3 linked regions of the Homo sapiens genome follow. The protein of the gene in region 3 interacts with the protein of the main gene of each other region in a pairwise test. Each region holds a gene or a part of one and is shown on either strand. Other genes may lie near its edges.

Region 1 (7,985 bases), on a different chromosome or scaffold from region 3:
GGCTGTGATAAAAAGTAAATGCTATAGATGTGTGTTTTGTAAACACCAAAGTGTTACATAAATATAAGACACCTCTATGACCAGTTCCTTTTGTTACATACTTTATTTTTTATTAAATATTTCCGTCTAAAGCAATTTCGTGGAAATGAAAGTCTGGTTCAGAATCTCTGAACGGCTGAAAATTGTAGACTCACTTTTATAGTTCATGTTCTTTTGTTTATTTGATCCTACCAACTCACAAGATTAAAAAAAAAAGGTACAGTTCCACACCAAATAAAAAAGTGTACTCAAGTCTCTCTAAGAGATTTGCATGTTATTTTTGCTTTCAGTTCATACACAAAAAACTGAATTTGTTATAACAGTGTCCATGGTTAGGTTTCCATGCTGACAGATGACTATTTTATTTGTGTTAAAGAAGTAGTATCTACGGTTATAATGATAGAAGCCAAGAATACTTGAATGTTGAATATATTTGAAACTTAGCACTTATAAGTTTATGTAAAGAATGGAGAAACTGTCAGAACAAAAGAAAGCCCAAACGATATTGAGGACAATTCGTGGGCTTTCATTTAGACCCTAAATGTTGGGAAAGACAGCAACATCTTTTTCAAATGGAACTGATCAAATCGCTGCTTGAATTGCTTTCACTTAGATTTTTCTAATATTTTTGAAACGATAACTAAACATCAGGTAGCTATTAAACCCTTATTTATTTCAAATGTGAGACCATACATTCACAACCTTTATTTTACAGCAGAGGATTCTAGAGAGTATTTCCCCCAAAACTTTCCCTGTGCATTGTTGGAAGTTGACTCTGCAGCATTAATCTTGTGGATCTGAAACCACTTTCCTGCACATGACAGAATATTTTGGTATTATTTCAAAACTCAGCCCCTGCAGGTCCACAAAAGACCCATTTTATTGCTAAGACGGAGTGTTTGCACTGTTTTAAAAATATGACTACTTTTATATAGGGGCATTGTATGACAATTTCCAGAGATATGAATTAACTAAAGTATTTTATCCAAAAAGGCAAACAGCAACAATAAAAACATTTCAATAGCCAAAATTAATTCTAACATAAGCTTTTTTTGGGACAAGTTGGCAATTGTAGTAGTTGGGGTAAAGGATTGATCTATCATTATAAATTATATGTTAGATTTATACTTTTTAATATTAAAATGTTTATTTAGCACATTTTATGTATGAAGCACAGTTTAGGGACCATTTAAAACTGGAACCACATCACAGTGATATTACACGTGAAGTTGACAAAGGTATACAGTTTTCAGGTTGTGCTTATGTAACAGCTAAAGAATGATCACTGTTAGTATCTAGAGCAAATAGTAATGGAATAATAGGGGTCTCCAGAGGTTAACTAGTCCACCCATCTGTTTCTTAGCTGAACCAATTACCAAAGTCATCCCACATGAGTGAGTGTTTTTGTATCATTAAGGTGCTCTCATAGAGACAATAATTTCTCAGCCTTTCCCAGTTGTTACCCTAATGCACGCTATCAGTACTTCCTTTGACCTAAAGCCTGTATTTAATGGAACAGTTAAGCAGCTTTGCACATAAGCCACTCTTTTAAAAAATCAAATCTGTAAGAATATAGTGTATATAGTAAGCAGCTAACTATTAAGAGGGAAAAATGTTCTCTAATAGATGTATGTATTTCTAAGACTTTCCTTCTCTTGAAGTTTAGGGTAGACATATGTCAGCTCTGGTTGGTGACACTGCAAACAGTTTTTACTATTGTAATTGCTTTTCATTAGTAGCTATTTGTTTTTGCTTTAAGGTTGAGAATTTCCTATGAGTTGCTTTATTTTTTTATGATTTTTAAAAATAAATTACTGACTTAAAGTCTATAAAAGCAACTCTTATTGTTTGTTTGTTTTTTCCTCAGTTACTTGGACATAGGAGAAATCAAGAAAAGACCAATGGAAGTTGTTAATACAGAGGTAATGCAAATATTATTTTGAAAATTCAAATAAATAACGGTGCCATTTGTTTCTTATGGTGTGTCTTAGAGATTTGGACGGCATTCTACTTTGATGAGTTCTCTAATGTAAAGAAATGGAACATTATATGTTTTAAGGCAAAGATAATTCTTTCTTTGAATCATTGTCAGAAATGAAAAGACTGAGTAGATGTTCTAAGATGTGCAGGATATGTCAAGATTAGACAAAACATATTTTTCTCTTTTCTAGCTACATGTTCTCTGATTGAAATCCATGGGAAGGTTCCCTGTCAAGTGAGAAGATTCTGAGCGTTGTTAAATAAATCTTTACCAAAGCTACATCCTCATCCTAATGTGCCTCTGATAACTCAGTGTTTGATGTAGCCAGGGTCACCCTAACTGCCCCTGAGGCTTTCAAAGGAGATGAGTAGATGTCACGTTGGACACTTTGTGATGTCAGGAAAACACCTGTGTTTTAGCTTCTATCGAAGTACGAGTTAAGCATAGTTCGTGAAAGCTTATGTGAAGGTTGGAAAAGGAGCTTGTGAAATATTCACAATACCGCATTCCACGTAGCTTCTGAAACCCTGGTGGAGTTTTAGGTATTCTGTAGGATGTATTCTTTAGTTTGTGAATGAAAAAATAGATTAAAAACAAAGTTGGGGCCACAGCCTGAGACAGGGAAAATTGTAGTTAGATCCAGAATAGGCCTCTGTTCACCAGCCCAGACAGCCACTCTTCCCATTCAGACCCCAAATAAACAAGTGCTTCCAATGGGTAAGTGCTGCCAATGAAGAAATGGCCAACAGGAAAAGTAGTTTTTCTCACTTGTAGTCCAGAGCCCCAGAGGGACTCTCCTCAACACTCACCATTTCCTCTCACATCATGTTTGTGCCTAATAGGACCAAATAGGCCCCTCTAGAAAAAATATTGCGTAAGAAAAAAATTCTAATTGTACAGTATTTGAAGAATATGAGGTTAAATTCATTATTCAAATAATCTGTAGAAAGAGGTACCCTTCCTAGACATCATTTAACATAATTAATATTTTGGCTTGTATTTTCAGTGCATCAAATTGATTAGTCATGAAAGTGATAGGCTTTGTAGCTTAAAGTAGACAAAGGTATACAATTTTCAGGTTGTGCTTATGATATAGCTAAAGAATGACCACCAGTTGATATCTGTCTCAAGTAGAGTAGTAATAAAGGGCAGTGTTGTGAATTTGTTCTGGATGTGATTCTGATGAAAGGATACACACCTGTTTAAAGTATACTACCTTGCATGAAATTGGTGAAGAAACCTGGACTTCCGCAATAGAATTTGAGATGTGTGAATTCCCAAAAAATGTGAGCACAGTATATTTACTCTGGATTCCAGTGTCTTTGCTGAAGACATTATCCCTAGTAAAAGACAACAGGTGTGCAATAGATTTATCGAATATACTTTTTTCTTAAAAATTTTTTTTTGAGACAGAGTCTCCTTCTGTCACCCAGGCTGGAGTGCGGTGGCTCGATCTCTGCTCACTGCAACCTCCACCTCCTGGGTTCAAGCGATTCTCCTGCCTCAGCCTCCTGAGTAGCTGGGATTACAGGCACGTGCCACCACACCTGGCTAATTTTTTTGTTTTTCGTAGAGACGGGGTTTCAGCATGTTGGTCAGGCTGGTCTTGAACTCCTGACCTCATGATCCGCCCGCCTTGGCCTCCCAAAGTGCTGGGATTACTGGCATGAGCCACCAAGCCCGGCCTTAAAATAGTATTTTTAATAACAGAAGCATTCACAGAAACTCCAGTTCATTTAATTTGCTTATTGTTCTTCCACTCTGGGGACAGTAACCATTGTTTCTCTTTATTTTGCACTTACACATGAGCCAACGTACAAGATCCTTATTTATGGATGCACACCTTACGTGTGAAAAACCTACCCCTTGTCTCCAAATGAAAGACTGCATCTCTTTCATCCTGCTTCCTACTGGTGACTCCCTCCCACTTACTCCTTTCCTCTTGCTGCCCTGCTGTGGCCTTTTATTTCTTCTCAGTCCTTACCCATAAACCCTTCTAAAGGAGATGGAAAGAGAGAAGTAGAAGAAATTGTGAAATGCAAAGGAGATGGGAAAAGGTGTTCAGAAACTGCTTGTCCATGCTCTTTCCCGCATCTTCCACTCACTCATGCCCAGCTTTCCCACTTGTTCGCTAGAGTCCTCTCTCCCACTCTGCCCTCCTGTCCTAAAGTTTCCTCCAGGTCTGGACAAGCAGTGTGTTCACTTCCCTCACTTCACATGTCCAGTCCGGAGATACCTTCCTCCCCAAAGTTCGCACCATGACCTTCACCCTCCGAAGTCTGCTTTAAGCAAAGGCAGCCCCTACTTTCATTGCCAGAAAGAAAGGTTTTTGGGTTCTTGGCATCTCAAAAGGGAACTATGAAAGCATTTTTCTTCTGGAAATATCACTTTGACTCTGAATTCTATGGTATTTTTACGGCTGTTTTAGGTAGAGCACGAGTGGAAAAGGGTTTTGCAGGCTGCCCTGAGAACCTAATTATACTGTGTGATTTTTAGTATGGGAAACTACCTTTCTCTTTCCCACAACTGATTTATAGTCAAACTTTTGGAGTTCAACAAGTTGATAAGTTGGAGGATGATCTATGCTCAAAATTTGAGAACAGACTTGGTAGAACACTGGCATTTCACAAAAATTATAGATCTTTAAAAATCTTAGGTGGGTATTTCCTTTCAACATTAATGTGTTGAGAAAAGATTGCACATCTTGTTAAGTGCTATTAAGGATGAGCATTCTTTGGAGTATGATGATATATAAAGGGAGATCAATAGAGAATTATTTTTGAAGTGGATTTAGAACATGAATACTTCATGAAATTGGAGGGTTAAGAGTTGTTTCAAGGGGGAGTTTCAGTGCCGTAGTAGCACAAAAAAATTCAAAAATGTGTCATTATGAGGGATGAGTAAAATAACTTACTCACCAAAATGGGGGGCATTTCCTTCAAATCTAAGGTAATTTTGAGTTTTCAGTGATGGGCCTGCATAATAAAAGCCACCACCCCAGTATACACAATTCAGTTTTTCTGGTTGCCTAAAACATACTAATTCTAATTATTCCGAGTACATTTTATACGGAAAGACCTTTGCATTTCAGTGGAGTCATGCAGAGTGTGTGGCACTGGGTCCTACCCACTGTGGCTGGGACACCCTTTCAGTGAGTGCTGGGAGTTATTCCTTCTCCTTTTCCAGAGCAGCTCACCCAAGACCATGGGTACGATTTGTTGCTTTTACGTAGTTAATAATTTAGACAAGATGGCACCTGCTTATTGACTTCAGGTCATGCTAACTAGAATGTGCGTGTCACCTTGACATTGGAAATGCTTTTGTGGTTTGTGTCACTGCTTGCTTGTTCCATGAGGCTCATCTTTGAAGAGATACTTAAGGACAGCCAATGCTATTCCTCTTCCTCTTTATGGCCTCATGATGGGTTTGGGGAAAGGCAGAACTGTAATGGACCTAACCCAAAAGAAGCATAGGGTCCTATTTGGTGAACACTTTGCACAGCAGGAAGTAATGGGGTGGAGGGGGGGAATAAAGAAACAGAAGAATAAAAGAAAGAGGAATAAGGTGACTCTGTGGTTGTTTGCACCCACCTCAGAGTCAGGGCACCATATGGGCTCAGAGCAGCCTATCCCTGACTCTCTACACCCAGGTCCTGCTTTTACTAATATCTAAATAAACAGATCTCCTGGATTGCCCTTGTACTCTTTTTGTGCTCCTGAGTCATTTTGCATAGCTATATTTTCATTTTTCCTCCCACTTTCCCTGTGTCAGTGGTGGTTTAATGAAGACAGTTTTCTTAGCTTCTGACCGTGGTAACTCATCTCCTTGTATTTATGACTTCCCAATCCTCTCTTTGCTTCCTCGTGTCCCACCTCTCAGTCCAGTTTCACATCTCATTATATCTTCTAAGTCCTAAGTTGATTTACCAGCTCCTTTCTTTCCTCTTTACCTTAAGCAGCCTGTGGGAGTCCTCTGTCCTCATGCAGTTGGAGACCTCTGATTCTGCATGTGTGATGCCTTTACCAGCACTTACTCTTGCCCCTACCCTTCTGCTTTACTGAATGTGATTTCTGCTTCCTCTCTTCTTGTTTTCCTACCTTGTCCTCTCTGCTTCCATGTTATTGAATGCCTATACAATGCAGTGGGCAGAGTAAGCAAAATGATTAAGACATGCATGACCTCTCACATCCAGGAATTTATAGTCTTGCTGAAAAGACAGATGAGCATCTCTAGTACTACATCATAAGTGATTCGATTTAGTAAATATAGTTTGCATTGAGCCATTTAGTTCAAGTGCTTCTGGCTTTATCATGTTGCAGCAAAGCCATTTGTGGACCCTTCAAATGGAAGCGTCCTTCTGCTTTGACCTGGCATTGTAGATCTCACTCTTCATTCCTGCACCTCATGTCTCATCCATGTAGTACATCCTTCAAATAATGACATTCTTTTTTTTCCATAACCATTCAAGGTGGAATTAATGACATTCTTAAATAGATATTTAGAGTACAAATCTGTTTTACTGTGTAAGGGGCTTTGGTACATGTTATATAGAGAGGGGAAGAGCAGGCAGCTTGACTTTGGAGCACTTAGATGGGCTGGGAACTGTGCTAGGCACTAGGCATAAAATGGATACTTCACTGCTCTTGCTCTTTGGGAGTTCAGCGTGTAGGAGAAGAGACAGAGAAGTAAACTAGCTATGATTATCTAGTGGCAGGTGGCTGTGCTAGAGGTGTGCTCAGAGGACTGAGGAAGTGCAGATTGGATTAGGGTTGTGGGTCAGCCAGTTTGAAATGGTTTAAAATATAATAGACCCTTTTGTTTTTTAGCCTGCTTCTCTTAGATCAAAGTTTTGAGAAAGTCTTTTTCTACAACTTGATTAAGAGGGTATTATTTAATAATTATATCTGTAAGAGTCAAAATCAGTCTCTAGCAGAAAGAGTGAAAATCAGCTTGCATGGAAAAGAGGAAAAGGTCGCTTTGCTATTAACCAGGCTTAGAGGATAGACACATTTAAAGCCAACTATAAAATTAACAGGAAACATTGTTTCTCCCATGGTGGCACAGGGCTGTAAAATGCCACAAGGATCCCTTCTTTGAGTGATGACTGCTTTCTTACTGCTGATGCTCTCAGACTTGCTTTGCTATTCCCATCTTTTACGGAGATCTTTATTGGATAAACTTCTCTTATCTCATACAACCCCTGGTTAATCCCTGATTCTTTTAATTTCACCTTAAAAACAGAAACCAATCTAGAACTGATCTCTGTTTCCCTTAGCTCTTCAGAATCCTTCAATGAGATTCCAAACCCTACAAACCTACAAACCCTCCTGCCTCTTTGTCACTGTCATTTTATGGATTCTTTAAGTGCTGGCACTTGCTACACCAAGTCCACACATCTGATTTTGTCAGACTGCAGGCTTGTTCCTGTTAGACTTCTGATTAGGCTTTAACATATACATCAGAGTTGTCTGTTAGATTGTGGTCTCTAGGAGGTCTGCTAATCCTGTATCGTACCCACCACGCTGAAGACTGGGAATTGTTTAAATTTGCCATGGTTTTGATCTTCCTTTTGGGCCAATTTAAGTAGATGTCCATTTGCCTTGCACATGCCTGGTTATTCCGATTTTTGCATGATGGATAGGACGTCTCAAGTAATTTAAAAGCCTTTTTTTCCACCACCTATTTAGATTTTGTTTCAGGGGTAAAATTAGTTATAGTTAAATCTTTGTTTGATACATTTATTGCCCCTGTAGGATAATTTGCAGCTATATTGAATGAATGCTATTCATGCAACAAGTAGAGTTATCCTTCAGTATACTCAGTCCTAGGGATTGTTTCCAGTACCCCCTGAGGACACCAAAATCCAAGGACGCTCAAGTCTTTATATAAAATGTCATCATATTTGCATATAACCTATGCACATCCCCCCGTATACTTTAAATCATCTCTAGATTACTAGTAATAC
Region 2 (7,985 bases), on a different chromosome or scaffold from region 3:
TCACCTGAGGTCAGGAGTTTGAGATCAGCCTGGCCAACATGGTGAAACCCCATCTCTACCAAAAATACAAAAAAAAAAAAAAAAAAATTAGCCAGGCGTTGTGGTGGATGCCTGTAATTTCAGCTACTCAGGAGGCTGAGGCAGGCAAATCACTTGAACCCAGGAGGTGGAGGTTGCAGTGATGACGCCATCCATTGCACTCCAGCCTGGGTGACAAAAGCGAGATTCCATCTCAAAAAAAAAAAAATTCTGAAGTCGTTACAACACAAACCTTTACTTTATCTCCAAAGACTCACATGGTAATTTTAATTATTCTTCCAATTAATCATGTTTAAATGACAGTAAATACAATGAGACATTATCAAAATTGCTGCCAATCTCATATCAGAACAAAATTTTAGCCAGCCCCTTACCCACCTCCTGTGCCACCCCAGCCAAACAACTTTCTCAGGCCTCTAGTACTACTTAGTCTAAACCAAGACATCTTATACTTCAGCACCTGGGATGGCCTTGCCAGGATTCGAACCTGGATCATCTGTATGGTCAGACAGAGGCTTCCACTGAGCACAAGACCAGCTTCGGGTGCAGATCCCTTCCTCACAATTAAAATTCTGAAACGCCAGACATTTTCAGAGAACGTAGTTTGCAGAGAGACAGGTTTTACTAGATACTAAAAAAAGAGAACTCGGAAAATAAAATGAACATAAGTATCAGGCTACGTGTTTTACTGCTAAAAGACACTTCCACACCTACCATTTCCTTAGATCATAATCAGCTTGTAAAGTGGGCAGGTAAGGAGACTGCCCTAATTTTTTACAGATGAAGTTACTGGAGAGGTGTCAGAGAAAGAACTCTTCTTCTAATAAGACTGGACTGCTCGAAATAGTAAGGAAAACCTGGGGTGTTTTTGGAACTTTACCTTGGCATTTTTCTGGATTGGGCAAAGCTTTGGACTTCTTTTGGGGCAAATTTATTCGAGGATCCCCAACTGTCAGTCCCAGAATAGTACCTGCCGGAATTTCTGCTGGTGATGTTATTCCTTTAACAACAACAAAAAGAAGTTTACAGAAAGTCATTCATAATACATCTGTATTTGCTTGTATTTTTAAATCTTTCAGATTTCCTAATGAAACGTTTTTCTTGGACTAATTACTTAAAAACATGTATTCCCTCTCTTCCCATTGATACTTTTAGAGAATAAGTTAACATTCATAAAGAATGAGGTTTCTTGCAAAAAACATGAGGCCAACATAAAAAAAGGTTCTTTTATGAAATGAACACATATGCTTCTATCAGTGATAACTACAGCAGCTATGAGCAAAAATGCAGTTGTGTGCAGGTAAGCATAGAGTTTAGGTCAGTACCTGGTGTATGCATTTATCTCCACTATCAGAATGCCAGTTACTTAGAATATGAACATACCATTTGTTTGTTGTTTCATAACCAGGCATGAATATAGTGTTTATTCACTGAGTTCAGTCCCTCTCTTACTTGGTTCTCTTGCTGTGTCACAATAGCAGCAGGTTAAAAAGCAATACTACATGTTGGAGGCCCAACTGCAAAAGGCTCTTTTGGCCCCCTTCCCTCCCCAACACAACCCAGTCTTCCCTTTGTATACCTCCCAACAACTCGAAAATGGCTTCTTGTCTGCAATGAAGGGAAACGCTGTCAGGTTTCTTACAGGTTTCTATCCACCAGCGGTGAGGTGTCTCCTCTGTGTCCTCTCCCACCTGAAAAATAACAACTACTATTCACTGGACGAACAATGAATCCACCTTCATAATTTTGTCATGGTTGTGATATCAGCCCCCACTCTTTCTTCTTCTATGTGTGGAAATGTATGTGTTATGGGATGAACCAGGGAAGTTGCCACTATACTTAACATAGTAATTAATACCAGACTAACTACCCTTTGAATTAGCAGCAAGGATATAGTATTACACTTCTCTCAAGATTTCACATATGAAGAAAATCATCTATGGTTTTCATAGACTAACTCACTAAGATACTTCACACTCAAAGTCTCTCCAGAGCGCAGTACCAACAAAGGAGGCCTCGCTCCTCTCTCTTTTTTTTCTTGACACAGTCTCACTGTCACTGAGGCTGGAGTGCAGTGGCCTGTCATGGCTCACTGCAGCCTCAATCTCCCAGGCTCAAGTGATCCTCCCACTTCAGCCTTTCAAGTGGCTGGGAGATGGAACCACAGTCACATGCCACCATGCCCAGCTAATTTTTTTTAACTTATTTTTTGTAGATATATGGTCTCACTATGGTGCCCAGGCTGGTCTTGAATTCCTGGGCTGAAGCAATCAACCCACCTCAGCCTCCCAAAGAGCTGGGATTTCAGGTGTGAGCCACACGCCTGGTCCTCTTCCACTAGAGCTAACTTCATCATCTCCAATGTAAGCAATAAAATGTTCCTCACCAAAGGAAAATCAAACCAGTACCTTTTGAAGAACTTTCCAGATAAAAGATATACTACTACTACATTATTCCTAGAAATGTATATTTTTTCCACATGGAACTAGGAATTGAGGAAGATTTCAAAAAGTCCTTCAAGTATCACATGCATGGCAAGAAGGGAATCTATAGCCACAACTCATGCTGAAGTTCACTGAAGTAGGATGTGCACTTACGGATCCTAAAGAAGCAATCATGGCCGGGTGCAGTGGCTCATGCCTGTAATGCCAGCATTTTGGTAGGCCGAGGCAGGCGGGTCACTTGAGGCCAGGAGTTCGAGACCAGCCTGGCCAACATAGTGAAACCGCTACTAAAAATACAAAAAATATTAGCCGGGTGTGTTGGCTGGCACCTGTAATTCCAGCTACTCGGGAGGCTGAGGTATGAGAATTGCTTGAACCTGAGAGGTGGAGGTTGCAGTGAGCTGAGATTGTGCCACTGCACTCCAGCCTGGGTGACAGAGTGAGGCTCTGTCTCAAACAAAAAAAAAAAAAAAAAAAGCAATCATAACAAAGGTACCATTTACTCACAGAAACTCAGGTAGCACAGCTTAGTGGTTTACAGTACAGGCTCTGGAACCAAACTTCATTGGTTCAAATCTTTGCTCCACAACTTATTAGCTACTACGGGGCACCCTCTCTGTGCCAGACATTGTGCTAAGCACTGGGGAGAGAGTGAAAAACAGGACCAACTCTATCCTCACCCTTATGAAGCTCACAGTCTCATGAGAGACATGGACATTACATAAATACACAAATCTATATAAATAAATTGAGGGAATTTGCAAGATGCTCTCTCTGAAAACAACAGGAGGGATCTAGTTTAACTTGGGGGATCAGGAAAGGATGCTAGAGGGAAATGCTAGAGACTGAAATCTGAAGAATGAGGAAGGTTCAGCAAAGTAAAGAGTGGTGGAGGCAGAATGCTCAGTAGTTGGAAGGAAAAAACAGGTGCAAAGGCTCTAAGGGAGACAAGAACTGACATTCCAGAACCTGAAAGAAGGTCAGGGTGGCTGAAGTGTAGAAGGGTGAGGAGAAATGAGGCCTCAGAGGCAAGAAGGCACAAGATTACACGGGTCACATTGAGCACTTTGGATTTTATCTTAATTACAATGAGAAGCTATTCAAAAACTTTTCATCAGGAAGCAACAAGAGGGAATAAATTATCAAAAAATCACTCTGCCTCTTGTGTGGAGAATGGGCTGAAAAGGAGGAAGGATGGAGGAAACTTAAGGTTCCCTCTAGAATCCTTTCCTGATCCCCCAATTGTTCAGGCAAGAGACAACACTGGTTGAGAGTACAGCAGAAGCAGTGAAGATGGAGAAAAGTAGCTTTTGTATTTTAAAGCATCTTTCTTCTAAAAACTCAGAATCTGTTCAGCTCTATCATCGTATTTGACCACGTCAAGTCAGTGAGAGGCACAGGCATTGAAAAGTTAATTGCACTAAGACCAGAAAACGAACAGGATCTGAACCCAGGGTGCAGATTCCTAATCTAGTCTCTATGCTAGCCACTTGCCAATAGAGCTACTCAAATTTAATTTTTAGTTAATTAAAGTTAAGTAAAGGTATAAATTCAGTTCCTCAGTCACTCTAGCCACAATTCAAGTATTCAACTGCCACATGTGGCTAATGGCTGTCGTACTGGACAGCACAAAGGAACATCATCCTCACAGAAAGCTCTACTGGAAGTGCTGCCCTAGACATACTGCTCTTAACCTTTTTAGAGATTCTAGACCCCTAAAACTAGCCCCAGAAAACCAGCCAGGTGCGGTGACTCATGCCTGTAATCCCAGCATTTTGGGAGGCCAAGGTGGGCGGATCACCTGAGGTCAAGAGTTCCAGACCAGCCTGTCCAACATGGTGAAACCCTGTCTCTACTAGCTGGGCCTGGTGGTGTGCACCTATAGTCTCAGCTACTCGGGGGGCTGAGGCAGGAGAATCGCTTGAACCCAGGAGGCAGAGGGTGCAGTGAACCAAGATCGCACCACTGCATTCCAGCCTGGGCAACAGGATGAGACTCAATCTCAGAAAAAAAAAAAGAAAAGAAAACCTACATGGCACACGCACACATCACAAAATCTGGCACACAATTTCAGGGATTTTAGAGACTCCCTACCTATGAAGCAGAAGTTAAGACCCTCTACAAGACTCACAGATGCAAGAGCAGTCTGTATTTAAGTAAGAACAGTCAGTTTACTGATCATATCCACTTAGTTGTGGTCTTCTAGGAGAAGTGAAAGATAACAAAATCTTTGATAATAAGCATAATAAGTAGGGAAATAAACATCTAAAAGCCATGGCCCAAAATGTTACCAAATTATATATTAGGTTTCACAAATTTGACAGGAAAAACATGATTAGAATAAAACACTACAGTCACTTTTACTCTTACAGTGTGGACAGAAGCAGCTTTTATTGCTTCAGTTAGGATGGAGTGGGAAAGTGGCCCAATCAGCCGGAATCTGTTCATCTCCATCGTCAAATCGCTGAAAAAGAAAGAACATCTTAAAATGGAAACTTTCATCACACAACATCTGTGCCACTGACAAAAATGGAGCAGGTCTTCACTGAAAATGTTCAGTAGGTTCAAAGCAAATTCAACTCATACCTGATTATAATGCCTGTGGTTGGAGAGATCCAAGAGTATGGTAGACATGGATCTCTAGTTCCATCACCGATAATTTTTTTAATTGGTTTAGCATTTTCTCCATCATCTTTCCTTTTTCTTTTCTTGCCAATTTTCTCGTCAGGCAATTCAGTTTGGCTTTTTTCTTGGGATGGTGTTGGAAGTGGGTCAGCGATGCAGACAGCTGATTTGATGGGTTCCACACACTGGCACGCTGCTTTTATTTCCTCTAAGATATCCTAAAAATATATTTAAACATTCACTTTAAAATCTTGAAATTTAAATATATTACGACAAATTTAGTTGGGTTTTTTTTTTTAAATCTCTTTAAAAATTAACATTTTTGGCCAGGCACGGTGGCTCATACCTGTAATCCCAGCACTTTGGGAGGCCGAGGTGGGTAGATTACCTGAGATCAGGAGTTCGAGCCCAGCCTGACCAACTGGCAAAACTCCATCTCTACTGAAAAATACAAAAAATAGTTGGGTGGCAGGCACCTATAATCTCAGCTACTCAGGAGGCTAAGGCAGGAGAATCACTTGAACCTGGGAGGCAGAGGTTGCAGTGAGCTGAGATCGTGCCATCGCACTCCAGCCCGGGCAACAGAGCAAGACTCCGTCTCAAAAAAAAATAAAAAATAAAAAATAAAAAAAAATCACATTTGTATTCCCTCACAAATTAACTTAAATTAAATTTATCATCAAAAAGCTTTTTTCGGCCAGGTGTGGTGGCTCACGTCTGTAATCTCAGCACTTTGGGAAGCTGAGGCAGGAGGATGGCTTCAGCCCAGGAGTTTGAGACCATGGCCTGGGCAACATAGGGAGACCTTGTTCCTACACAAAATAAAAAAATAATTAGCTGGACAAGGTGGTGCACCCCTGTAGTCTAAGCTACTCGGGGAGGCTGAGGTAGGAGGATCATTTGAGCCTGGGAAGTAGAGGCTGCAGTGGGCTATGACTGCACCACTGCACTCAAGTCTCAATGACAGAGCAAAACCCTCTGGGAAAAAAAAATTTTTTTTAATTTAATTTTAATTTTTGAAAAAAAGCTTTTTTGGGTGTTCTGAGTAGTGTATGCCACTTTAAACAAAAAAAAATTTTGAAACTGAAAATTTCAAATGGGTTAATTAGGGCTGGGGCTAGGGGTAGGGTTAGTCAAATATTATGAAAACAACATGATCACTCTGACTACATTTTTTTAAAGTAGTGAGTATGCTAAAGAAGGGAAGCTAAGCTAAATTCAGTGTGAAAAATCATTAGAATTACTCAAAAATAGCTTTTCATTATCAAATAGCCCCTAGATACTAGTGAACCACTTCAGTCATGGTAGAAACATTAGTTCAAATTCAACATTTCAAATAATTAGCATAAGGCTGGTTTTTATCTCTACTTCTGCTTATGACTTACTAAAAATATGAGATGTCAAGATTAGTTTTTTTTTTTTTCGAGACAGGGTCTCACTGTCACCCAGGCTGGAGTGCAATAGCACGATTTCATCTCACTGCAACTCTGCCTCCTGGGCTCAAAGTGATCCTCCCGCCTCAGCCTCCCAAGTAGCTGAGACTACAGGTGCATGCCACCAATCCTAGCTAATTTTTGTCTTTTTTGCAGAGACAGGGTTTCACCGTGTTGCCCAGCCTAGTCTCAAACTCTTGGATTCAAGTGATCCAACTGCTTCAGCCTCCCAAAGTGGTGGGATTACAGGCATGAGAAACCATGCCCCGCCCTGACTTCATTATATTTGATAAACAAGTTCCGGGGATATAATGTACAGCATGGGTGGTGATGGATGTGTTATTTGATTGTGGTATACAACATGTATATCAAATCATCATATTATATACTTTGAATATATTTGCTTTTTGTCAATTAGACATTTTTAAATACAAATTTTTAAAGTTTTTTAAAAATTCACTTCATTCAATAATCATAGAGCCCCCCATATACAAATATCAGACTATCAGACAAACCTTTACACTATTTACATTTCTACAGTATTGACTTCCAGCAGTAATTAAAAATGCAGTTTCAGAATGACGGGAGATAACCTGAAGGATTATACCTGTTTAAGGGTTGGATGCAGCCAGATCCACAGCTGCCTGCTCTCAGAAGGGTCACCCGGGGTCCTCTGGGACTTCCAGATAAACGTAACAGGCCCAAGCATTTCTCTGGGATATTTATTCACCCGATAAAGCACAAGGCTCCCTTGGCGCTTTCCAGACAAGCAGTGAACTGCTGCAAACGTCAGCCCTGACATCAACAAAAGCAAAATTCCATAATTCCGGGTGTTGAGACTGCAGTCCTATTTCCTGATAACCACACTGTCATTTACTGTCTGCCTCCATGAGAGGTGAAGTTTTGGTTGTGAGGATTGCTCAGATCAAAGCCTGGCACACAATAAGTTCTCAACAAATATGTGTTAAATGAGTAATGAGAGCTTCAAGTTTCTTTCTGTCAAGTTCACTCCACCAGAAAAATGACTCTATCACTTTACACTTGACAATGTTAGAAATTATTTAAAAGCCAACCCAACTGTTTTTAAGTTAACATTTTCATTGGGAATGATTAGTGTCTCACACACTTTTCTATATGTTTGAATTCCAAAATGCTTACAGTAGACACTTCTTTATGAAATGAATAAATATACATAGACTAAAATAGAACTCAGCTTTAAAACAAGTTTACCTGTGTCTATGTTACACATTCCAGAAAGCGCCTTTAGTATTTCTTCCTCTTTGCCTTTCAACTCCAAACAACAGTAATAGGATAAATCCTGCACAAAGCGGGAGACACAATTAAGTACTTAGGAATTTACACAGGCAAAACTGCTAAGAAGCCAAAAGCCGTATCACAAAACCTTTAGAGGCCTAAGACACAAAACAAATTGCTAAAGCTATGT
Region 3 (8,453 bases):
TTACGAGCAGTGGCTGCTTAATAAAATGCTGGAGCAGATACAGTTTCCCTTTGCCACCATCCACAACAGCAGCATCTGGGCTCTGACAGAAACCCCTCGGATGCCAAAGTCACCTCAGAATGGTACCCCAGTTGCGCTCTCCTTCCTCAGCATCTTTCTAGGTCCCCGAATACAGAGTAGAGAGCAAGGGGTTAAGAGCACAGGTTTTAGGGTAAGACAGATGTCCACCCAAATTTACTGTGTCAACTTGGGCAAGCCATTTTCCTCCCTGTGTCTCAGAGGATAATGGGTCCTAACTTCATGAGGCTGATGTGAGGACTCAATCAATCAAACCCAGAAAAGACAGTGGCCAGCACACTGGGAGAGCCCAATTAATGATCACCCAGGAGACACGGATGAAGAATAAAGACAGTGATCCCGGCTGGACACGGTGGCTCACACCTGTAATCCCAGCACTTTGGGAGGCCCAGACAGGCAGATCACATGAGGCCAGGAGTTCGAGACCAGCCCGGCCAACATGGCAAAACCCCATCTCTGCTAAAAATACAAAAAATAGCCAGGTATAGTGGTGGGCACCTGTAGTCCCAGCTACTCAGGAGGCTGAGGCAGGAGAATCGCTTGAACCTAGGAGGCAGAGGTTGCGGTGAGCCAAGATGGAGCTACTGCCCTCAAGCCTGTGGGACAGAGTGAGATCCTGTCTCAGAAAAAAAAAAAAAAAAGGCCGGTCGCGGTGGCTCACGCCTGTAATCCTAGCACTTTGGGAGGCCAAGGTGGGTGGATCACGAGGTCAGGAGATGGAGAGCATCCTGGCTAACACGGTAAAACCCTGTCTCTACTAAAAATATAAAAAATTAGCCAGGCGAGGTGGCACGTGCCCGTAGTCCCAGCTACTGGGGAGGCTGAGCCAGAAGAATCGCTTGAACCCGGGAGGCAGAGGTTGCAGTGAGCTGAGATCGCGCCACTGCACTCCAGCCTAGGCGGCAGAGGGAGACTCCATCTCAAAAAAAAAAAAAAAAAAAAAAAAAGGAATCTGAGAAGTCCCAGGACGACTGTAATAATGCTAACAGTAATGACAACAGTGACCACCCCATTGATCCAGGGGATACCTGACTCGGCTAAGGGCACAGGCTGGGGTCAGACAGACGTGGATTGGGCTCTATTGTGCACCTGGGTGAGTTGTGATGTCGCACCTGGGTGAGCTCACCTCTCAGAGCCTCATCGGCTTCCTCACCTGGGGAGGATAATGGCTCTGCGGCCCGGCTGGGGAGAGAACCGAGGAGGGGTTGGGGTGTGAGCCCCCGCCGCTGCCCCTTCGCGGCCGGCATTCCGGCGGCGGGCACGGCCGGGGCACACCCCGTCGCCGTCCAGCGGATCTCCGGGCCCCGGGGAAGACGGCCGCTCCTCCTCCATGCCTCCGCGGGCGGATTCCCCCGCAGCCTCCCGCGCCGCGCAGCGGGGACCCGGGTGATTGCAAACAGCCGCCGGCCTCATTAGGAGACTTATAATTAGCGGCTGGCGCAGCCCGAGCCGGCGCGCGCTAATTACCGCGGGGAGCCCGCCCGCCCGGCCACCGCCGGCGTCTGCACCCTCCTGGGCCAGAAGGGGCCGGGCCTGGTCCAAGACTGGGAGGCCGCGGGCCGTGCCAATGTGCTTCCTCCCGGGGCTGTGCCTGTGGGGGAAAAGTAAATCATTTGTTCAGAACAGCGTTTACTTGCCGAGGGCGGTGGCACACGCCTGTAATCCCAACACTTTGGGAGGCCGAGGCGGGCGGATCACTTGAAGTCAGGAGTTTGAGACCAGCCTGTCCAACATGGTGAAATCTCTACTAAAAATACAAAATTAGCCGGGCGTCGTGGCAGGCGCCTTAATCCCAGCTACTCTGGAGGCTGAGGCAGGAGAATTGCTTGAACCCGGGAGGCAGAGGCTGCAGTGAGCCGACATGGCGTCACTGCACTCCAGCCTGGGCGACAGAGCAAAAAACTGTCTCAAAAAATTCCTGTTGTTTGGCTATATTTTCTTTTTTCTTTTCTTGTTTTTAAGACAGTCTTAAAAATCAGTCTCAAAAAACAAACAAAACAAAAAAAACAAAAACAAAAAAAGGGCTTACTATGCACTCGCTGTGCCAGGCATTTTGTCCACATGACCCCGCTTAAACTTCATATCCACCCACGAGGGAGGAACCATTGTTATCCCATTGCACAGATGAGGAAACTAAGATCTGAGACATGAATTAACCCTCCTGACAGCACCTGGCCGGGCCAGTAAATGACGGAGTAGCGAATCGAACCTCCATCTGTCGTCTCTCCATCTTATTACACTAAATGGACGAGTGAAATCCTGCACGGGAGAGCACCAACCGTGTTGACCAGAACAAGGAGTCAGCTGGCTTTGGGTTCGAATTCTGATCCTGCTCCTAACTGGATACGAGGCTTTGGTCTGAGCCCCAACTGCATCTATAAAATGGGCGAAGCATTGCTGTTGAAATGAAGGCTGGGAGGAGTGAAATTTCTATGAGGGGTGGAGCGCTCAGGAGTTGGGGGTGTCTTGCTCTCTCCGCGCACTGCGGACCTCTGGCGCCCCCTGTTGGCCAAAGGAGGATGTCGCAGACACTTTCTGGTGAAAAGTTGTTCTTGGGTGGGGAGTGCCGTCACTGTCACTGGTCCCTTGGCAGGGCCACGGCGTTCCCTCTTCCTATTCTTTTCTTCCCTACCTTCCCCCACATCCCTCCTTTAAGGTGGCCAAGAAGAGTGGGAGATGGGAAAATTCAGAACTCATTCCAGATCTTGCAAAAATAGGTTGTGAAAGCTGCCCCCATTACGGACCTCACAGGACCAGCCAAGGCCAAGACACTTCTACAAATAATCAGGGATGGGCATAAAGACTAAGCTACAAAGCCATGCATCAAAGTATTGGGTATAACAAGAAAATCTAGAAATAATGTAAACGTCTACCAAAGGGATACTGACCAACTTCACAATGGTACGTCCAAACAATGCAATACTGCACAGCTAAAAAACAGTATTGTCGCTGAAGAGCTGACATGAAAATATAGCCAAATGGCCAGGCGTGGTAGCTCACGCCTGTAATCCCAGCACTTTGGGAGGCCGAGGTGGGTGGATCACCTGAGGTCAGGAGTTCAAGACCAGCCTGGCCAACATGGGGAAACCCTGTCCCTACTAAAAATACAAAAATTAGCCAGTTGTGGTGGCACACACCTGTAGTCCCAGCTACTTGGGAGGCTGAGGCAGGAGAATCGCCTGAATCCAGGAGGCAGAGGTTGCAGTGAGCTGAGATCGTGCTCCAGCTTGGGCAACAGAGTGAGACTCCGTCTCAAAAAACTAAATAAATAAATACAAAAATTAGCTGGTCGTGGTGGCAGGTGCCTGTAATCCCAGCTACTCGGGAGGCTGAGGCAGGAGAATCGCTTGAACTCAGGAGGCAGAGGTTGCAGCCAGCCTCCTGGCTGCATTTATATAAAGTTTAAGAACAGGCAAAATTAATCTAGCAGGGTAGAAGTGGTAATAGTGGCTGATAGCAGTAAGCAATTTGACTGGAAGAGGGCTCAGGGAACCTTCTGGGATACTGGAAATGCTCTTTATTTTAATCTTGGAGGTGGTTATAGAAGTCTATCCATATGTAAAAATTCATTGAGATGAATACACTTAAGAATATGTACTTTATGTAATACCCCATAAGACATTTTTTTTAAAATACTTAAAAATAAAAGAAAAAACATAATTTAACAGAGGGCATAGTTCTCAAGCTGTTTTCTCTGTCTCAGGACCCCTTTACACACGTTACTGAGGGTGCCCAAGAGCTTTTAGTTTTGTGGGTTATATTTACTATGGACATTAAAGTTGAGAAACGTTTAAAAAACAATACACAATTCCTAGAGCAGTGACGTCATCACGTCAAGCAGCCTCTGGAAAACTTGACTGTTCACTCAGAGAGAATGAAAAAGACAAGTAACATCTTAGCATTATTATGAAAGTAATTTTGACTTCGGGGACTCCCAAATCGAGTGAATTTAGGAAATCTCAGTGGTCCCCAGACGGCACTTTGAGAACCACTGGCGCAGGGAGAAAATGACAGAAGAAAACACACTACACGACAACAGTTATTCTCTCTCAGTGCTGGGATTATAATTTATTTGCTTCTTTGTGCTTTTCTGTCAAAAAAAAAAGGTAAACGGAAATGGAAAATACAATGACCACGTATTGTTTCTGCGAGCAAAAAACGAGACGGCACACTCGCCTCCCTAAGATTGCTGAAAGGCCCAAACAGCAATAGCATATTTAGCTGTATGGAAGAATTAAACTGAGCTCAAACCTGAAAATAAAAGTCCGATTTCCCGTTTGTCAATGCCTGGGCTGTGAGGTGCAGGGTCTTGCCCTCAAAAGCTCCACCGTTCACCTTGGGGAGAGAATATACTCGCATACATAACTGTGGTGCAAGGTTCCCAGGGCCCCAAGGGTAGCGGCTACATCCTACACACTATTGTAAACTTCAGTGTGCAACAGAACCATCCATTACAGCTGCAAGGCGCTCCATCCCGGGGTTCAGCCCTCAAACTAGTCAGTGACCCTCCGCAGGACGCATGCGCGCTTACAAACGCAGTTGGGCGGGGCTTGAGAGAGCTGACAGACTTCGGCCTCTCAACTTTCTAGCTCCGCCCTAATATCCTGTCTCCTTCTCTGAATGGCTGAAAGGCTGCGGAAGCAAGCTTCCCATTGGCAGCGGACAGAATTCACATCCGGTTTGCACGCCGGACCGGAGAGCGCGGAGGCAGCCATGGTGCGGTTCAAGCACAGGTAAGCATTCCCTTCCAGACCCTCCCAGTGCCTTGCTGGGTCCTCGCGGCCCCGCTAGTGTCCACCTTCCTCTCGCCTGCCGCAGGTACCTGCTCTGCGAACTGGTGTCTGACGACCCCCGCTGCCGCCTAAGCCTCGATGACCGAGTTCTGAGCAGCCTCGTACGGGACACGATCGCCAGGGTGCACGGAACTTTCGGCGCAGCCGCCTGCTCCATCGGCTTCGCGGGTGCAAGGGCGCTGGGGGAAGAGGGGAACCCGGGAGGATGGCGGGATGTGGAGGGGGCAGGCGCCGGAGGAAGAAAGAAGGGGCACGAGTGGCCAAGCCCGTGCACCGTTTTTTGTAAGGTATCTCTTTAAGCGCCTGGGACCCCAAGCGAGAGTCCGAAATTAGCAGAGCGCTAAAAGGAGGGGCCCGAAGGCAGTGGGGCTTTGAGCTAGAAGCCTCTTTTTACCTGCTTGACAGGTAATTTCTGTAATTGGTTGTGATTGAATTTGATAGGGTAGAGAATTAAATGAGGGAAGCTGTGTATACTTCCTAGTAAGAGCTATTATATGACCGATTACATTAACATCATATGGAAAAAAATTGTCAAAAGTACTCCGGGAAAGCCCTTAAATAGTTGGTAAAGTACAGAACACATGATTGTCAATATATGTAAATACAGGATGAGCTAGGACAGAGGGGCCCTTCTTTCACACCACTTAAATTAGTTCCCACTTTAACCTTGTTTGAGATTGACTTCTGGAGAGTTAAATGCAGATAGACTTAACTCTCCTAAGTCAGGTGAGACTGAGAGCTGACTGCTACAATAATTACGGAGCCCAAATGCAGTAAAACAGCCTGTTTTTCAGGCAAGGGTTTTGTGGGGGTTTTTCCTAAATTAAAACGGATCGCCTCCTACCTGCTCCTATTTATTGAATTAACTAGTGAATTAGAAAGCATTTTCAATTCTAAATTCATTCACCAGTTCTGAGTGGTGTGCAACACAGTGGGTGTTTTGGCTTTTCTCTTTTACTCGCTGATAGATCTACGTGCCACTTGCCTACAACATACTTTTGGCACATAGTAGGCTCTGTTACTCCAAAGTTTTCCTTTTTTCGAGACAGTCTGGCTGTTGCCCAGGCTGCTGGAGTGCAGCAGCGAGATCGGGGGTCATTGCTGCCTCTGCCTCCTGGGTTCAGGCGATTCTCATGCCTCAGCCTCCTGAGTGGCTGGAATTACAGGTGCGCACCACCACACCCAGCTAATTTTTGTATTTTTAGTAGAGACGGGGTTTCATCATGTTGGCCAGGCTGGCCTCGAACTCCTGACTTAAAGTGATCTGCCCGCCTCAGCCTCCCAAAGTGCTGGGATTACAGGCGTGAGCCACCACACAGAGCAAAAGTTTTCCAAAATGATTTTTCTTTCCTGTTGTAGTTCGATATCTCAATGCCTATACTGGAATAGTGCTACTTCGATGCAGAAAAGAATTCTATCAGCTTGTGTGGTCAGCTCTTCCCTTCATCACATACTTGGAGAACAAAGGACACCGTTACCCATGCTTTTTCAACACATTACATGTGGGAGGTAGGAGTGAGGTGGTATGGCTACTGATTTTCAATTGGTGACACGTTCACAGTTCAGTCTAAACTGGTGGGTGGGTCTTGCTGCTGTCCCGCTAACAAGACACTTCCCCCTACCTCTGAAAGTCTGTAAGGTCGAGATCTTTCACAAGCTGTTGACCACAGTAACTCATATGCCAGGTACAATAAGAACATGTCAGAAGTTCCTAATTCAGTACAACAGGAGACAGCTGTTGATCTTGTTGCAGAACTGCACTGATGAAGGTAAGCAACACTAGCCCAGTGCCCACTGAGCAGTGACTGACCTTAAGCTGAAGAAATCACTCCCAAAGATATCTTTCATCCCTGTTATCTGCCTTCTCCAGGAGAGCGGGAAGCTATCCAGAAGTCTGTGACAAGAAGCTGCTTATTAGAGGAGGAGGAGGAGTCAGGTGAGGAGGCTGCAGAAGCAATGGAGTGAACCTCTGCTCCCCACACAGCTGGCTACACTGCTCAGGCTTCAGGCCCACTTGTTGAACAGAACAATCTGGGTAGCAACAGCATCTTCCACAGTTTTCCAAACTGGATAGCTGCCAACCAGCAGACATTACCCACTTGAAATGGAGTACTCAGTTAAACTGAAGTTGCCTTTACCTAGCATTCCCTGGTGAAGTGTTGCAGGTTGTGAACTCTGTAGACATCTTTATTGCTTGGCTAAGAGTAGATTTAATAAATGTATCTGGTTTCCGTGGCATTTAGCATACTTATATTACAGAAAGGGCTTATGGAGTCCATGCTTGGCCAAGTCTCTGTTCTCTCTCTATCCCTAGCCTTGGTGGGAAGACTGACTCCCTATGTGGTACTAGTTAAACTTTTTTTTTTGAGACAGTCTCAGTCTATCACCCAGGCTGGAGTGTAGTGGCCCAGTATCGGCTCACTGCAACCTCCGCCTCCTGGGTTCAAGCAATTCTCCCACCTCAGCCTTCCAAGTAACTGGGATTACAGACGTGCACCACCACGTCTGGCTAATTTTTGTATTTTTAGTAGAGACGGGGTTTTGCCATGTTGGCCAGGCTGCTGTTGAACTCCTGGCCTCAAGTGATCGGCCTACCTTGGCCTCCAAAAGTGCTGGGATTAAAGGGTGAGCCACTGTGCCTGGCCTAAATTTTCAATACTTAGCCTTCTACCTGAAGCTTTGTACCCCCGGCCCCATGATGGGCCCTAAGCAAGCCAAGTCATTTGGAATAGAAATATTAGTTGAGACACAGCAACTGAACTGGCAGAGATCTACAGCCCATCTCAGTACTGAACCACAGGGTCTTACAGATACCAGATTCCTTGCCAATAGTTAATCAGGTAACTTAAAAAATACAACTTTGGGCCGGGCGCAGTGGCTCACACCTGTAATCCCAGCACTTTGGGAGGCTGAGGCGGCCAGATCACAAGGTCAGGAGATCAAGACCATCCCGTCTAACGCAGTGAAACCCTGTCTCCACTAAAAATACAAAAAATTAGCTGGGCATGGTGGTGGGTGCCTGTAATCTCAGGTACTCAGGAGGCTGAGGCAGGAGAATGGCGTGAACCCGGGAGGCAGAGCTTGCAGTGAGCTGAGATCCCACTACTGTACTGCAGCCTGGGCTAGAGCGAGACTCTGTCTCAAACAAAAAATGCAACCTTTGCAGTTGGGGGGGGCGCGGGTGCTGGCCTCATCTGACATCATTACTGCATGGTCATGTAGCAGCTGTCCACTTAAGGAACTTAAGGTAGTTTTTGTAGTTCCGCTCTTATTGCGCCTGAATACAAGGCGCCCTGAAGACAAGTCAGACTGCCATACTCACAGGAAGTAGGAATGGCGGGAGACTTGTGATCCAGGTTTGATCTGCTACCTACTGACATTTCTGGGATCTGTTTTCTCCATAATACAATGGATGAGACTGAAAGTACCATACACATTTAACAGAAACACTGGTGATTCTGGCTTCAACATGCCCCCTCATCTGGAGGCCAGAACACCCTCATCCATCCAGGAAATTTCCTGATAGGATTTCTTTTAAAATGGCAGGTTAAAGCTAAGCCCAGCTCTAGAACCATTTAAACC

Evidence for each region. The genes of interacting proteins can lie anywhere in the genome.
Region 1: the proteins of POP5 (region 3) and DCDC2 interact in binary tests that used the Homo sapiens proteins (3 or more experiments, as listed by UniProt).
Region 2: the proteins of POP5 (region 3) and POP1 interact in binary tests that used the Homo sapiens proteins (3 or more experiments, as listed by UniProt).

What each region holds. Positions count from the first base shown.
Region 1 is NC_000006.12:24,347,545-24,355,529, reverse strand, and holds part of DCDC2 (doublecortin domain-containing protein 2), read left to right. Parts: intron 1-1,906; coding exon 1,907-1,961; intron 1,962-7,985. UniProt on the Homo sapiens protein: Protein that plays a role in the inhibition of canonical Wnt signaling pathway. May be involved in neuronal migration during development of the cerebral neocortex. Involved in the control of ciliogenesis and ciliary length.
Region 2 is NC_000008.11:98,133,823-98,141,807, reverse strand, and holds part of POP1 (ribonucleases P/MRP protein subunit POP1), read right to left. Parts: intron 7,860-7,985; coding exon 7,772-7,859; intron 7,337-7,771; coding exon 7,149-7,336; intron 5,327-7,148; coding exon 5,070-5,326; intron 4,948-5,069; coding exon 4,854-4,947; intron 1,731-4,853; coding exon 1,619-1,730; intron 1,040-1,618; coding exon 920-1,039; intron 612-919; coding exon of another isoform or gene 604-611; exon of another isoform or gene 543-603; intron 1-542. UniProt on the Homo sapiens protein: Component of ribonuclease P, a ribonucleoprotein complex that generates mature tRNA molecules by cleaving their 5'-ends. Also a component of the MRP ribonuclease complex, which cleaves pre-rRNA sequences.
Region 3 is NC_000012.12:120,577,701-120,586,153, reverse strand, and holds POP5 (ribonuclease P/MRP protein subunit POP5), read left to right. Parts: upstream 1-4,751; 5' UTR 4,752-4,791; coding exon 4,792-4,811; intron 4,812-4,896; coding exon 4,897-5,039; intron 5,040-6,230; coding exon 6,231-6,380; intron 6,381-6,502; coding exon of another isoform or gene 6,503-6,556; coding exon 6,557-6,640; intron 6,641-6,741; coding exon 6,742-6,836; 3' UTR 6,837-7,390; downstream 7,391-8,453. UniProt on the Homo sapiens protein: Component of ribonuclease P, a protein complex that generates mature tRNA molecules by cleaving their 5'-ends. Also a component of the MRP ribonuclease complex, which cleaves pre-rRNA sequences.